2 separate regions of the Homo sapiens genome follow, and region 1 is linked to region 2. The links come from fine-mapping of genetic effects on gene expression. A gene starts in region 2. The other region holds a variant in brackets. All regions are shown on one strand. Distances are from middle to middle. Region 1 has its middle 18 kb from the start of VSX2. Region 2 holds the start of YLPM1 (YLP motif containing 1).

Evidence for each region.
Region 1: its variant is fine-mapped to the expression of YLPM1 in T cells (TOPMed, PIP 0.97).

The regions. Positions count from the first base shown.
Region 1 is chr14:74,219,663-74,224,050 of GRCh38, reverse strand. No RefSeq gene overlaps it. Among named protein-coding and RNA genes, the nearest start is that of VSX2, 18 kb to the left of the region's middle. The variant C/G (reference allele first, on the strand shown) is at 2,058.
Region 2 is chr14:74,761,056-74,765,443 of GRCh38, reverse strand. It overlaps YLPM1 (YLP motif containing 1), which reads right to left and starts at 2,128. Exons shown (of 21, transcript NM_019589.3): 1 at 1,082-2,128. The coding sequence starts at 1,954. RefSeq lists an enhancer at 2,081-2,420.

The DNA of each region.
Region 1 (4,388 bases), 540 kb after region 2:
AACTGGCTGCTGCCTGCTCCTTCTGCCCCCCTGGCTGGCCCATTGCTAGGCGTCCTTCCTCCCAGCTGACTAAGAATCCTTTTGGGGGAGACTTCTGTGAGAGCTTGTGATCGAGCGGTCCCCGTGGATCAGACACAGTGCTGGGCCTTCCATATGCTGCTGCCTCATCAAATTCTGTGGAGCCAGGCCAGGGAGCAGCAGCAGGGGTCAAGGCTGGGGAGAAGGGCTGTGTGAGCACAGGAGCCGTTATTATCCTCATTTTCCCCAAGTAATAGGGGCTCAGGGGTTTTAAGAAACAAAACTAGGGCCAGGCGTGGTCGCTTACACCTCTAGCCTCTAATCCCAGCACTCTAGGAGGCTGAGGCCAGTGGATCACTTGAGCCCAGGAGTTTGAGACTAGCCTGGGCAACATAGCAAGATCCCATCTCTACCAAAAAAAAAAAAAAATAGAAAGGCATGGTGGTGCACACCTGTAGTGCCAGCTACTCAGGAGGTTGAGGCAGGAAGATCACTTAAGCCCAGGAGTTTGAGGCTTCAGTGAGCTGTGATTGAGTCACTGCACTCCAACCTGGGCAACAGAGTGAGGCCCTGTCTCTAAAAAATATATTTTAAATAAATAAATAGAAACAAATCAAGACCTCACATAGTAGGGGAGGGCACTGGGACAAGCATGAAGTTCTTTCTGACCCCAAAGCTGGTGCAGGAGAGATGGGGAGATGAATGAAGACTCAGTGAGAGCCTTCAGAAACCCAGCCTGCGCCTGGTCTTGGAGAGCGGATGTTGGGTGCATTTTTCTGTAAGTATCCAGGAGGGTGTGGGGCAGAAGTTGCAAGGATGAGGTCAGGCCTTGGCTCCTCTGGGGCCTGCGGGTGGGTGAGACCAGGGGAGGGGGGAATGGGCCTGGGGCCGAGGAGGGCAGGGCTGGGCCTCCGGCTCTTTTGTGAGCTGTTTTAATTCGTGTAAATGAGGGTTTTTAATTTGTTATTCTGGGTTTTATTTCTATTACCATCTCATTTGCCTGTAAACCCTATTCTGCCCCTGCCTGGACCGAATTCCATTTGATGCATTAGGACTAATTCTCCTCCCAAAGGGTTAGATGTTTTCTCCCCACACAAAAGTCGCTTATTTTGGATAAAGAGACGATTAGATTTATCTTTAATATTTTAATGGCAGCTGGGATTAGTGGGCAAACAGCCCCGACTGGGGTTGTTCACGGCGGATTAAGTTCTGATCAACTCTCAGATGGGGAGCCCCCACCCCCACCCCACTCCACTTTCTGTTTTCCACAAAGTGCTTTTTATTATTTTTTGTTGAAAAAAAAATTCCCTTGTCTTTTGGAGCATCATAAATTCCATTTGCTGTTTTCTATTAAATCAAGTTGATTAAATTCGTTGTGACTCTTTGCACATAGATCTTTTTAATTTTAACGTCTCCAGCATAAAATCTTTAATGGTGCCATTTGAAATTGCTGCAATATACAGTACAGGCCCTGAGAAAACAGATGGAAATGAGGTTCTGCCAGGGATGGGGGAGGTCCTATCAGGAGGGGTACAGTTGGGAGAAGGCACAGACCTCCAGGTGAAGGCAGGGGACTGACTCTTCCTGAGGTCCAGAGAGCCCCACGTTCTCCATTCAGCTATTTTCTAGCTTCAGGGCTTTGGCTAGGAACTTGGCCCATGCTATGGAGGGCTTGCTATGTGCCTGGCACTGTGTATGCATCGCCAGTCATCCTTACAAGGAGGCTCAGAGAGAGGTCACTTGCTCAAGGTCACGTAGCAAGTCGGTGGCAGTGGTTGAGTCCAGATTGTCTTTGCCAATAAAGCCTCATCTCCCCTTTCATCAGTAAAATGGGGGTGATCGGTTCCGCCCTGGGTCACAGGTGCTTGGAAAGATTGGATGAGGTCCACAAACTGCTTTGGGAACAGTACAGAGCTGTGCTCTCCTGGGGGGATGGAGGAGTGGGGCTGACCCATTTGGGCCTCAGAGGCTCTGCTATCACTGGGTAGAGCTGCCTTTTGAGACCCTGGGAACCTTCACTAACTCCAGGGTCTCGGCTT[C/G]CCCCCGCCCCTCAGCTCTCCAGCTCTCCGGCCTCCGGCCTCAGGCTTTTTCTCCCCGTCTCTAATCCTGACCTCATCAAGTCCTGGGAAGAGGGTTGATCCACAGGAGCAAATCCCTCATTCAGAGGGGCAAAATCAGCTTAATTTGCAGCAATTTGAAGCAGGTCTTTGCCAGGATTTGAATATCAAATTATCCCACAGCCTGGGCTGGTCTGGGAGGCCTCCCCCGGCTGCAATATGGACCGATGTGCTCAGGCTTCACCAGGGAGATTGTCCTGGGAGTGACTGAAGCTGAGGCTGTGGAGATGGGAGTGAGTGTCAGAGGGTAGTGGGCAAGGTGGGGGTCACCAGTCAGCCCCCACTGCCAGAGGGCACTGCAGCAGTGACTGAGGGACAGATGGAGTTTGGGGTCAAAACCTCCTGTTCTTGAGACTCACCGGGGGCTCTTGTCAAATGTGCGGATTCCCAGGCCCTTCTACAAACATAAGAAATCAAGATTTTCTTGACTAAGAAAGTTTAGAAAAATCCGGTGCAGCTCAGTTAGCCAATCAACAAACACTTGCTGTGCACAATCTGTACTGCCTCTCATTTTGAGAGAATCAGCCTCCTCTGGTGCCCACCCTGTTCATTCCCAGCCTCTGGTACTGTGGACAATATTTCCTTGGCTGTCTGCTCCATGATGGCCCCTGAGGCCTGAGTCAGCGGCTGCAGAGAGCTCTTCAGCCTTCCCTTCCTGGTCTGCATGCCCAACTCCTCTGGCCACCCGGCCCTTTCATTCCTTTTCTGCAAGCTCAGGCCTAGCAGACATCCTCTTATGTCAGTCACACAGGCCTCGCTGCCCAGACCTGAGCCCCGGGGCTCAGACCCCTCTCATGGGCATGTCATGAGCTGTGAGCCTCTTCAGGAAGGCCCGAGGTTGGTGAAACATTCTGGTCCCGCCACAGTGTTGTGTCCCTGTGGGCCCTGCAGTGTAAAAGTAGCAGCCAGGGATGTTGGGATGGCTTTGCGCAGGCCCACTGTCCAGCCAGCACCATCAACAGAGATGAGAGGCTCTCGGTGTGACAAGCATTATAAGAGCCACAAGTGCTTCCATTTAATTCTCACAAAATCCTATGGAGTAGGTACTATTATTATATACACCCATTGTATAGATGAGGAAACTGAGGCACAGAGAAATTAGTAACATGCCCCACCCAGGTCATACAGCAATAAGAGGTGGACCTGGGATGCATACGCAGGCAGTCTGACTCCAAACTGCTCCTCTTAACCACTTTGTTCTGTCTCCATCTATCCACCTTTACCTAAAATTTTGTCCTTCTCTATATTCTCCACAGCAATGACTTGCCTTATTTTTAAAGGCATAATCACAGTGTGTTTGGGGAGCAAAGAAAGGAGCGCATAACCTACACTAGGGCAATCACAGAGGCTTTTTGGAGGTGGTGTCTTTATTTGTTCAATGATGTGGTAGAGCAACCACTGTGTGCCCAACACTGGTGATACAGACATGAAGAAGCCATGGAGCTCACAAACGGGGGCCTGAACACCCCATCGGCAGTGCTCAGTGCACTGATGGAGAAAACACAGGGCATCGTAGAAACACTGGGGACACCCCAAAGCCCAGGAGATCAGGGAAGACTTCCTGGAGGAGAGGCACTAGTCCCCTTCACTAGATCTAGTCATTAACCTGAGGTTCAGATGGCCCAGAGGTCCCACTGGGCACACTCACCCTTCTTTGTCTCAGCCAGTCCATCCTCCGTGGACCGTCTGGACCAACCAAGCTTGAGACCCTCTCTGACCACCTGTCCTAGACAGGTAGACCCCCTCAGGGGAAGTCTGTGTTCCCTACTGCTATGTGTTCTTAGAGGCGGGGCCTGAGCAGGAACGAAACTCCTGAACCCCAGATCCTATGCCTAGCAGGGTCTGGTGTAAGTCATTGGCTGCCTTGGGAAAGCCCAGTGGTTTGATTCAAGGATGACTAGAATTTAGAGCAAAAAGGGACCCCAGAAGCCACCCAAACCTGTTTTGAAGGAAGCCACAGGAGATGCCCACGCCCCACAGCTCAGAGATGCTGCAAATTCCAGCCTCCCAGTGCCCTATCTTCTCTCTGGGGTGGTCTAGCCCCACCTGGCACTCCCCCAGTCTTTGTCCCCGTGTCTGCCTTGCCTGATGGTGGCCAGGGGGCCTTTCCGGAATAACGATGGTATTGGCTCAGATTAAGGGCAACTAGCTGGCTCTTGGCTTTTCATTTTTATATAACAACTAATCTCCTTCTAATCAGCCATTATTAAATTATATTCCATTTTTAATTCATTCACAGATCACCGTTGGGAC
Region 2 (4,388 bases):
AGCATCATTTCTTAAAACAACTTGCTTCTGTTCTTAATTTCTAATGCCAAACCACCGTAAAATTATAATACTGCATCCCTATCTTTTGGAAATCTTTTATAGGTAAATCTGAGCGTTTATATTACAAGATTCTCTTTTTTCCTTAGTGAATCTAAGGTAAATTAGTAATCGCTGAAAAAGTGTCTACTTTAGGAAATCATAACAATTGATTTATTCTGCTTTAGTTTGACCTTCCCTCTCTCAAGGGGGAACTCGTTTATTACTGTTACCCTGTCAATTTGTCTGTTCTGCGGGATAAGAATGGCTGACTCTCTCATGAAAAGATATCACCAAACTTTTTTTACGTTGGCCAAATTGCAAGGCTGTTTCTTTGGAGTGAATGGTAATGACAATGAAACGCAGAAAATTGCTCATTATCTTAAAACAATCTTTAAATAATATGAGAAAAGGATGTCTGGGTCAATTCCTAAAATGGACCAATCGATCCCCAAAAGGGTCTCGGGACTCATCTATGTATTGTATATGTACCTATAAGCATAATTAGGATGCTCCTGGTAAGACAAGATTTCCATCCTTTTTCTGAAACCTCTTAATTCAGGAAGCTGACAACTATCCCTGGCCCCTAAGTAATATTTTTAAAAGAAGCTAACTAATCATAAAGTTTACAAACATTCAAGTGTCAGCCCTTGGCGAGGCCTCTTTTTCATGCTTTCTCTCAAATGGAAACTTTCGTTTAAAATACAATTTTAAAACAAGACCCTCTGCAACAAAATCTATTTGCAACAGCAACAAAATCTAAGAGGATGGTCAAAGAAACCAAGGAATGTATCTGAGAGGTAACTTTTGAGCCACCCCACCACTGTATGTAATCCATACACATCTACAAACGCTGTTTTTTTGGTAATTCACATCTAGCTAATTAAAAAGCTGAGCTGTCAGCCCTCTGACTCTTACGGAATCCTTTGGAGTGTTAGCTAGTCATTGTGTGTTGGAATTAGACTAACCACTGGTTAAAGCCCTGAGGCCTGCTCATTCAGGGCCCTCTAGGTGAAAGATGAGGTTCAGGCAGATGCTTTCTTACCTGTGGAGTCATCGTAGAGGGATCTGGCTCAGGGGCGGCTTGCTGCTGTTCAGTACTCTTGTTTTTGGCCCCACTCTCCAAAGGCTCTTGCTGGACAGTTGTCTTATTTCCAGGGGGGGCGGACGGTGGTGGTGGAGCTAGTAGTTGGGATTTAGAATGGCCCTGGGAGGGGCGGGAAGGAGATGCCTGAGAAGAGGGCAAGTAGGACTGGGAATGGCTCAAATAGGATTGCGAGGAAGAGGAGGAGGATGAGTAAGAAGGGGTGGGCGCCAGGTAGGATTGGGAAGGTGGGGACTGCGAAGGGGACGGCTGAGCAGGAGGCAGGTAGGGCTGAGATGAGGTCGGGGGGTAGTAAGAGGGTGGCGGCTGAGGTGGGGGCATGTAAGACTGAGATGGGGGCATATAGGACCCAGGCGGCACAGGGGGAGATTCAGGGGGGGATTCCAGCTCCATTGGAACCAAACCAGGAGGCCCGTCTCGTTGGTGGTGGAGCATCTGGTGTTTGTACTGCTGCTGCTTCTGATAGCTGAGGGCCGGCCCGGGTGGCGGGGGCATCGGTGGCGGTGGCGGCTGCCAGTCTCCGTAGCCGCCCCCCGGCATCACTGGCGGGGGCGGCAGAGGGGGCGGAGGAAGGTGGTGGGGCTGAAGCACGCACTGCATTTGCTTCTGGTGCATCTGCTGCAGCTGCTGGAGCTGCGCCAAGTGCTGTTCGCGGAAGCTCATGAAGCCCGAGGAGGAGGGGGCCGCGGGAGTCGTCGAGCTCGAGTACCCGGGCCCCGGCGAGGCCTCAGGAAGCGCCACTGGCGGCGGCGGTGGGACCGGTGGCGGCGGATAGTGGCTGCTCCCGCCATACCGGCCCCAATTCGGGTACATATCGAAAAAGAAGGCGCAGGGCTCGTCCTGGCGCCGTTACTCGTCGCAACCGACCTCCAGGAGCCGCGGCGGCGACGGCGACAGCCGGAACTCGCGGCGCCTACAGGCCCCGGAGCGTGTAAACGGAGCGCGCCAGTGCGCCGGCGCTCCCGAGCTGGGCCCGCGACCGGGAAGGCGGGGACGCGACTTGGGCGACTACGTCTGCGCAGTAACCACCGAGAGGAGAACAAAGGCGAGATAGAGCGGTCCTTTACTTGGCGACTCGTGGTTGCCATCTTCCTTTGGGTTCAGATAATGTAGGCTCCAGTAGAATGTTCTCATAGAACTGAAAAACCATAGAGTCTCACAGCCGAAAGAGGTGGTAGAGATCCTATCGCTCCACGGGTTCATTTTTGAATGAAAAAAAAAAAAGGTTCCATTCACAATAGCAACAATCGCAACAACAACAAAAAAACATAAAGCAACTAGGAAAAACTCTAACAAGAAAGATGTAGGACTTATATGTAGAAAGCTACAGAGTCATAAAGAAGCATATCCAAGTAGGATGAAATTAGACTTCAAATAATGGAGAGGCTTACCATGATCCTGGGTGAAAAGAGGAAAAATTGTAAAGATGTCAGTTTCTCCCAAATTAAATGAATAGACCTAACTCAATTCTCCCCAGAAATTCAACTGGGAACAAAGCTGTGAAGAATGGAAAGGTGTTTTCAAGGCAGAGTGTAAGATTACACCAATTCCTGCAGACATATAGTGAGTAACATCTGCAGGAATTGTAGAAGGGGAGAAATGGAATTTTTTAGACTGTCTCAACACATATAAATCGGTGTTGCAGAATCTCAGAGCAAAAGCAAAGAGAGCAAAAACCAGATACAAAGATGGTCTAAAGACAACCTGGAAGATAATCTTCCAAAAGCTCTCAACGTAATACCAGACATAAACTCTTACTTTAGCTTGAGTGAATCACTAAAAAGCAAAGCTAATACACTGAATTCTTTTGGGTGTGTGGGGGGGGGCGGGGGGAGGGAGAACTGTGAGAATATTGTGTCAGTGCATCACTTGAGTAACATGCAAATAATTGACCTTTCTTCCATCTTAGCAACCCAGATCTTCACCTCTCTCAGGAGGTGAATGTGAATGGAAAGTGGAGCAGCAAGGCATCCTTCAAAAGGAAGAGCTTCTGTTTTCAAATAGAAATTTAGTTATGTTTCTTTTAACTTTTTATTGAAGTATAACGAATATACAGAAAATTACATGTCAAAAGACAAAATTACAACAAATTTAGTTTAAAGATCTTAATTAACTTTTACCTGCTATTCTAGAATTGGGCAACGTCTCATTCTATAAAGCAGAAACAGTGTTCCAATGAGCAGAACAATCGGGATAATTTCATAGACAGAAAAGAAACGCAGAGGCAGGGCGCGGGGGCTCACTCCTGTAATCCCAACACTTTTGGGAGGCTGAGGCAGGCAGATCACCAGGTCAGGAGATCAAGACCAGCCTGGTCAACATGGTGAAACCCCATGCCTACTAAAAATACAAAAAGTATCCAGGCGTGGTGGTGCTCACCTGTAATCTCAGCTACTCAGGAGGCTGAGGCAGGAGAATCACTTGAACCCAGGAGGCAGAGGTTGGAGTGAGCTGAGATCGTGCCACTGCACTCCAGCCTGGGTGACAGAGCGAGACTCCATCTCAAAAAAGAAAAAAAAGAGAGAAACAGAAAACTAAAAGTGGATTGTTTGTTTCAAAGTTTCTTTTCTTATAAGGTTAAAGCAGAGAGGACTTCTTTATCATGCTGGCTAAAAATGGACTGTTTGCAGACTTGGCTATTATTTCTCTCTCTCCTGGTTTATTGAATGGTCAGATAAAGATTTTAATTTTGGCATGGCAACATCAATAAACTCCATTTTGGTTTGTTCTGTTGGGCCTAATGCCCAACTTGCTATAAATTTTATTTAACACATGTCTTAAGTAGACAGCATAGTAAATTTTCACAAGCCAATCACACTTGTGAAATCGGCACCCAGATCAGGAACCCAACCCAGAAACCCTAGTTAGTTGTGTTTTTAATATTTTGGGCTGACATTTTCTTTTGAAAAATGTATAAATTTAGGCCGGGCATGGTGGCTCACACCTGTAACCCCAGCCTTGGGAGGCCAAGGCAGGCGGATCACTTGAGGTCAGGAGTTCAAGAGCAGCCTGACCGACATGATGAAACCCCATCTCCACTAAAAATACAAAAATTAGCTGGGTGTGGTGGCACATGCCTGTAATCCCAGCTACTCAGGAGGCTGAGGCAGGAGAATTGCTTGAACCCGGGGGGCGGAGGTTGCAGTGAGCTGAGATCATGCCACTGCACTGCAGCCTGGTCAACAGAGCAAGACTCTGTCTCAAAAACAAAGAAAAAAAAATATATATATATATATACACATGGGGT